Homo sapiens: one gene and its partner. The protein of the gene in region 1 interacts with the protein of each later gene in a pairwise test. Each region holds a gene or a part of one and is shown in the gene's direction. Other genes may lie near its edges.

Evidence for each region. Proteins that work in one complex are often made in the same cells at the same time.
Region 2: the proteins of PTCHD1 (region 1) and EPB41L1 interact in a two-hybrid assay, tested with the Homo sapiens proteins (one study listed by BioGRID and IntAct).

The regions. Positions count from the first base shown.
Region 1 is NC_000023.11:23,341,349-23,344,848, forward strand, and holds part of PTCHD1 (patched domain-containing protein 1), read left to right. Parts: intron 1-3,500. UniProt on the Homo sapiens protein: Required for the development and function of the thalamic reticular nucleus (TRN), a part of the thalamus that is critical for thalamocortical transmission, generation of sleep rhythms, sensorimotor processing and attention. Can bind cholesterol in vitro.
Region 2 is NC_000020.11:36,161,240-36,164,739, forward strand, and holds part of EPB41L1 (band 4.1-like protein 1), read left to right. Parts: intron 1-3,500. UniProt on the Homo sapiens protein: May function to confer stability and plasticity to neuronal membrane via multiple interactions, including the spectrin-actin-based cytoskeleton, integral membrane channels and membrane-associated guanylate kinases.

The DNA.
Region 1 (3,500 bases):
GAAGGAGAAGTAAGCTAACAGAAGTTATTTGTTTTCTACCTGAGTGTTTCCAGTCCCTTGGCACAAAAGCCAGGGAAATGTGAGATGCTGGTGAGCTGATCAACTTTGACTTTGTGGGATGTGCCATCTGGTACCTGATTTCGGGGCTCAGTGTGAGCCCCAAGTGATACTTGAGATAGGCTTAAAGCAGACCTTTGAAGTCACCTGCTTGATAGCACATCACAGCAAGCAGGCCTGTCTGCAGCACTGCCTGTGTCTCCGCCACATACCCGGAAGGCCACAGAACTACCGAGGAATCCTGCCAGACTGATTTAATGACCAGCAGGGGAGGTGAGTAATCGCTAACCTTTAAAAGACAAGAAAAGGAAAAAAAGAAAATCAACACCAGTTGTTATTTCTTACGGGAAGCCCTGAATAATATGTTGTGCTTGCAACTTCTGAATTCATATTTTGAACAAAAGGAGGCAGTGAGGAACTAGAAAAAGCTATTTTTATCTTCTTGCTCTCTAAGAAATCCTCTTGAGAATATTGTTTCTGCTATTTTGAAAGATCCCCATTGTTAGGTCTTCCACTTTAGGTTTAATTCATAGGCTTCAAGTACAGTTAAGATGATTTATGTAAGTGCAGTCGGTTATCTTGGGAGGTGATATCAGAAAAGGCTGATAGGGGAGTGGGGAAGTAAAACAGTGAGTAGCAGGAAGCCAATCAAGAGAGTATTATTAAGCAAGTGTCTACTGTGGGCAACTGGGGCTCAGTCTCACTAGGGAACTCTGGGAGACACTGTAGAATGTGTTGGAGAAATCTCAGTTGTGGATAAAGAAGCTGAATATTTTCTCCCCAACTCCAGCCATCATCGGCTGATTCAACTACATTTAGAAGCATTAAATTTCTGGCATTTTCATATGCTGTGTTTCTCCCTATATATATATATATATATATATATATATATATATATATATATATTTTTTTTTTTTTTTTTTTTTTAAAAGAATTGGGTACAGAGCTACAGGTGTTTGTGGCAAGCAACCTTAGCATGGAGAGGTGAGTGTGAGCTGAGACTATATGGGTGGGACCCTGAGAGCATCTGCCCTAAGGGTCTTATATTCATCTAGAGTTATACATCGAGAGATTTAGTGCCCCGTTTCTAGGGAATGGATATTCATCCCTTTACTCAACAAGATGGCTATGACCCTGTCTCCATGAAGCTTACAGTTAAGAATCATCCAGCATAGCTATTTAGTTATTCCCAAGTTTGACAAGTGCCAGTGGATGCTGGTAAAGATGACTCCAAACAGGGCCTAGACACCAACAGGATGTGTGGTTTTAGATGCCAGACCTCTACATTTGAGAGGCACATATTCATTCTCACCTTTATGAATACAGAAGTCTGCAGGCCCCCATCTTCACACATCTACTTTTGTTGTTCTCCCTAAAAGTGCCCTCCCTCCTCTCTTTAAGGACCAGTTCACATGCCTTCTACTTTATGAGGCTTTCTCAGATTCATGGCTTCTTCTCTCCCTTAAATCTATTGGGCTTTCATTCTTATACACATTCTTTAATGCAGAGCTGTAGACTCTTATGTAATTTGCTATATTGTCATGTGATCGTTTCTCTTAAGAGAGGTAATGAACTCTTCAGGGGCAGGAACAATGTCTGACACTGCCAGATCTCTCCTAGAGCCTAGCATAATGTGGAGTTTGCAGCAGGTGCTTAATAAATTGTTACTGGTTTATAGCTTGTAAGATGGAAAATGTGCTCTGCCTCCCTATTGATTTATTTTGGTCAAATATAATTTTGCCTGGTAGCATGACCATGTGATTTCTTGTGCTCTATATTCATTTTTCATCTTTGACAAATCTTGGTTTCAAACTTGTTGATAAGCAATAAGCATCCATTCTGTTTCCAGATCTGCTGCCATTTATATGAGGAGAAATTCTTGGAAAACCAAATATCTGACAACCTTCTCTGGTCCAAGTACAGTTTGGGAGGGTATGAACTTGACCTCAGTCCCCAATCAGTGGTGCATTTCCATGTGGGAGGGTGGATCCCTGTGCAGTTCCCAGTGAGCACCCTGGAACCCAAGTCCCCACACTACACATTCCCTTATTTACTTAAAGAAAAGTCTCAAAACATTGGCCACACCCATATTCAAATGTAAATAGGAAACACACTTAAAAGAAAACATCAAGGACAAGTGGTTTTCCTGACCATAGCACCAGTGTTCAGGAGATCACCATTCTGATGTTGCTTAGTCCCACTCTTCTTAAAAGTTAGCCCAGAGGAACAGAAAGTATTGTTCTAAGAGGCAAACTTAAAAGAAAATGATACTGGTACAAAATCAGCATATTTCTGTGAGTTTAATGGAAACACTAAAACTGCTAATTTTTCAGCGTGGAAGATAAAGATTCCTTTACCCATTCCTCCATGAGGCTCTCCTGCTGTCACTAATACCATGGCTTTGTCAATTCTTTCTAATTGTCTCAAGAAAAAATAATGCATCTCTGCTATAGAGCTGTCATTATAAATGCTCAAGAACATTTTGTGATATTTATACCTTAATTGTATGAGGTTTGAGTTGTTGGATTTTGTTTTTGGTCTTGTGGTATAGGCAAGTAGTCCTACTGAGTAAAGATTGTTTGATTGCTCTCAGACTTTCTAACATGCACACACGTCACCTAGGCATCTTGCTAAAATACAGACTGATTCAAAGGGTCTGGGGTGGGAACTGCAAGTCTGCATTTCTAACAAGATCTGAGGTGATGCTGATGCTACAGATCAGCAGAACACACTTGGAGTAGCAAGGCTCAAATTTAACTGTTGTAAACAGAAAACTGGATTTAGAATCAGGAAAGCCAAGTTCAAGTTCCAGTTCTCCTAAGTATGTATCTTTGGGCAAGTCACCTAACCTCCCTGAGAAACACGCTCCTTATTTGCACTGGGTGTAATAGCATCTCTTTCACCCACTTAAGGTAAAGATAGAATGAGATAAAGTATGTGAAGGCACTGTGTAACCATAGCCTTCTGTAAAGTGTGTTATCATTATTACTATTTACTTTGAAAATGACTGCTATTTCCTCACATGTGCCAGCTCTTTCAAAGCCATTATTGCCTGTTGAGTAATACACATGTAGCCACTTTTTTCTTTGATCCAACAGGCAATAATGGGTGCTCAAGCTACATTCAATACTCATATTGCCAATTTGTTGGTCTTTAATGACTCCATCTGAGTCATTACAGACAATTGGATTCAACCTACTGCTGAGCATGCAGCTCCTCTACCTGCAGAAAGTTCTTAGGCAGGCAGAGCTGCGGATGGGGATGGGTGCATTGCATTCCAGCACACCAACGTGGTTCCTCTGGGCTCAGAACCTACTCTTCATGCCTGATGGGGCTTTGCACACAAAAAAAGCCTTCACTTCCTGCCCAGGGAAGTGCCTTTTGAATTAAAGGTTCTGAGAGGCTGCGGGCTCTGGTTTCAGGGCTCTCCTCACCACATCTCA
Region 2 (3,500 bases), on another chromosome or scaffold:
AAGCTGCTGCTTGGGCTGTGCAGCTGCCCACACCCAGACTGTCCTTGGACAAGCTTTCTACCTTCTCTGTACCTCAGTTTGTCCATCTGTCTGGTGGTGATCAGAGCCATTGCTGCCACTGAGTGTCTTCTATATGTCAAATACTGTGCTAGAGCAAGCTTCATGTGCATTATCTGTTTTTCTATTTTTTCTTTTTATTTTATTCTTCTTATTTTTTTGTTTGTTTGTTTTTTGGGTTTTTTTGTTTTGTTTTTGAGATGGAGTCTTGCTGTGTTGCCCAGGCTGGAGTGCAGTGGCAGGATCTCAGCTCACTGCAACCTCCGCCTCCCCGGTTCAAGCAATTCTCCTGCCTTGGCCTCCCAAGTAGCTGGGATTACAGGCACGTGCCACCTGCCTGGCTAGTTCTTGTATTTTTAGTAGAGACAGGTTATCACTGTGTTGGCCAGGCTGGTCTCGAACTCCTGACCTCAGGTGATCTGCCTGCCTCAGCCTCCCAAAGTGCTGGGATTACAGGCCCAGTCGTTATTCTTGTTTTTTTAAAGACAGCCTGTCACTCTGTCACCCAGGCTGGAGTGCAGTGGCATAGTCACAGCTCACTGTGACCTCAAACTCCCAGGCTCTAGTGATCCTCCTGCCTCAGCCTCCTGAGTAGCTGGGACTACAGGTGCACCCCACCATGCCCGGCTAATTTGGGGGGGGCACAGGGTAAAGACAGTGTCTCGCTCTGTTGCCCAGACTGCTCTCAAACTCCTGGGCTCAAGCAATCCTCCCTCCTTGGCCTTCCAAAGTGCTGAGATTACAGGCGTGAGCCACCACACCCTGCCTATCTCATTTAATTCTCACTATACACCTTGGAGGTGCAGGGGATAGTCTTCTCAATAGAGGTTAAGTAACCTGCCCAAGGTCACCAAGCCTGTGGCATCAGGATTCCAGCTCTGGCTCATAAGCCCATGTCTGTAACTGCTGTTTCCTGCCCACTCTCAACAGTGGCTAATTGGTGAGGTCCAAGCAAAATGATTATAAAAAGATCCTTTAAGTTGTAAAGTGCCCTGCATGTGGGAGGGATTGATACTGCCGTTATTATTTCTACATCCAGAGCAACAGTAGCTTTGGTTATATGGCTTACAGCAAGTTGGAGGTCGTGGGATGTAGCAGCATTGAGTGGGGAGAGCACTGGACTGTGAGCCAGCAGACTTGAGTCCTAGTCCTGGCTCTCCTTGAAACTGACTAGCCATGTGGCCTTGGCCACTAAGCCGCCTGGGAAATAAGCTCACCTACTCCGTGTGGCCCTTGTGCAGCTCAAATAAGATAAAGCCCAAAAGACAGCCAGCATGTTGCCCAGCTCTCGGAGGATACCCTGCTAACGGGAGGTCTCTCTCTGCCTTCTGCATCGTCATCAGGATGGGCCAGGTGGGACGCATGTCTCCGTTTTAATGCTGTTACTCTGCAGTTCTGTGCTGTCACGTGGTCCCCAGCCCACCACTGCACATCAGCCTGAGGCTCCCTAGTGGCCCGTGAAGCTTTTGGGCAAGAAGCCAAGGCTGATGGGTGGTGGCCTTTTCACATTGTTTGGTCTAAAGTGGTGTCCGTGGGTACTGCAAACCTCTGACGAATTGCCGTCTCCCCACTGCCATGTACAAATCCAAGCACCAGACAGGATGACTGCAGACTCAGCTCCCTTTTTGATCCTTCTTGCCTGGCTGTGAAAGTGGCTTGAGGTCTCAGAGGCAGCTCTCTCAGCCTGTACCCTCCATCCTTTCATTCACGTCCATGTAGACATTATCACTCAGGGAAGTGAGTGTTCCATACTGGGGAAGTCCCCTTGGGAAGGAAGTCACATCATCTCCAGCAAGTGAGAGAAAGAATAAGCCCTAATAGGCACTCTTTCTGTTTTTTTTTTTTTTTCTTGTAATTCTTCTTTTTTCTTTTCTGACTCCGAAAGTAATACATGCTCATAGTAGAAAATTGAAAAATACGGAGAAAAAGGCCCCTATTTCCTTCTCCAAGGGAAGGCTATTGTTAACATTTTAGTCTTTGGACTTAATTGGAGAGTAATATTTCTGGAGCAAATATTTCTAATATTCTGGTATGTGTTTAGTGTTTTACAGGCATGATCTGATTCCATTTTCACAGTAAGCCTGTGAGGTATGTAAGTTTATCATCATGACTTTACAGATGAAGAAACTGAGGCACAAAGAGGTTAAGGGGCTTCCTGACGGTTCCCTTGCCTTCCTTGACTTCTTAGCTTATTCTGCCTCTTCTCAGGCTCCCCTTATCCTAAGTGAGCATCAGGTGGTGGATCAGTCAGATTCTGACAGGAAACAGAATTCCACTCAGATGCTTCACCTGAGGAGATGTTAATAAAGATGTGAGCAGGGTGAGGGGAACCCACATGGGATGGTGAGGCACCCACAAACTAACAGTGACAGAAGGCATTACTAGCTCTCGGCCTGAATGAGCAGGAGGGAGTGGTGTTACCTGAGTTCCGTGACTGGTAGAGGTGGGCAGGGAGCTGTCGCAGAGGGGCTCAGCCACCACCAGGACCACAGAGAGAGAAATTGGGGAAGATACACCCAGGATCTCTCTCCTTCCACCTTCTGAATTCCTGCCAGTGCCTTCTTCTTTATTATTTTTTTTTTAAGACAGAGTCTCTGTCGTCCAGGCTAGAGTGCAGTAGCATGATCTTGGCTCACTGCAACTTCCACCTCCCAGGTCTGCCTCAGCCTCCCTAGTAGCTGGGACTACAGGCGCCTGCCACCACACCCAGTTAATTTTTATATTTTTAGTAGAGACAGGGTTTCACCTTGTTGGCCAGGCTGGTCTCAAACTCCTGACCCCAAGTCATCCACCCACCTTGGCCTCCCAAAATGCTGGGATTGCAGGCGTGAGCCACTGTGCCCGGCCCCTGCCAGTGTCTTCTATTGGCCAAATGGAACCAGAAACCAGGAGGCAAGGGAGCTCAAGGGACAGTCCAATGGGCCAGCCTCCTGCTTCTTCAAGCAGGTCATGGATCTGGGGGTGCACATGGAGACTAACAACCCAAGCGACATGGTTGTAGGGAGATGGGAGAGACATGTCCTCTGACTTCCCAGAAAGAGTTGTCTTAGTAACTGACTATTAAAAACATCATTCAAAACAAGAGACTTTTTTTCTGCCTGGGAGTCTCTTGGTGTTTTGGTGTCTCCTCCCTCCCCTGCCCCCCATCTCCTCTCTCACCTGGTTCAGAATTTCCAAGAACACCTGGGCAACAGTCTTTGGTGTCATCGGTGTGCAGGGTTTAGAAGAGACAACCTTGCTTGCATGATACATGTGGCTGTGTGTGTTCTCATGTTGTTTCACTGCTGTGCCTATGCATACAAAGACATGCTTCTTGTGTACATGTCATAAGCATCTATAACATAGTCTCCTCTGTATCCAGCAGAATATTCACTTTTTATTTATTTATTTATCTAATTTTATTTTTTTGAGATGGAGTCTTGCTCTGTCTCCAGGCTGGAGTT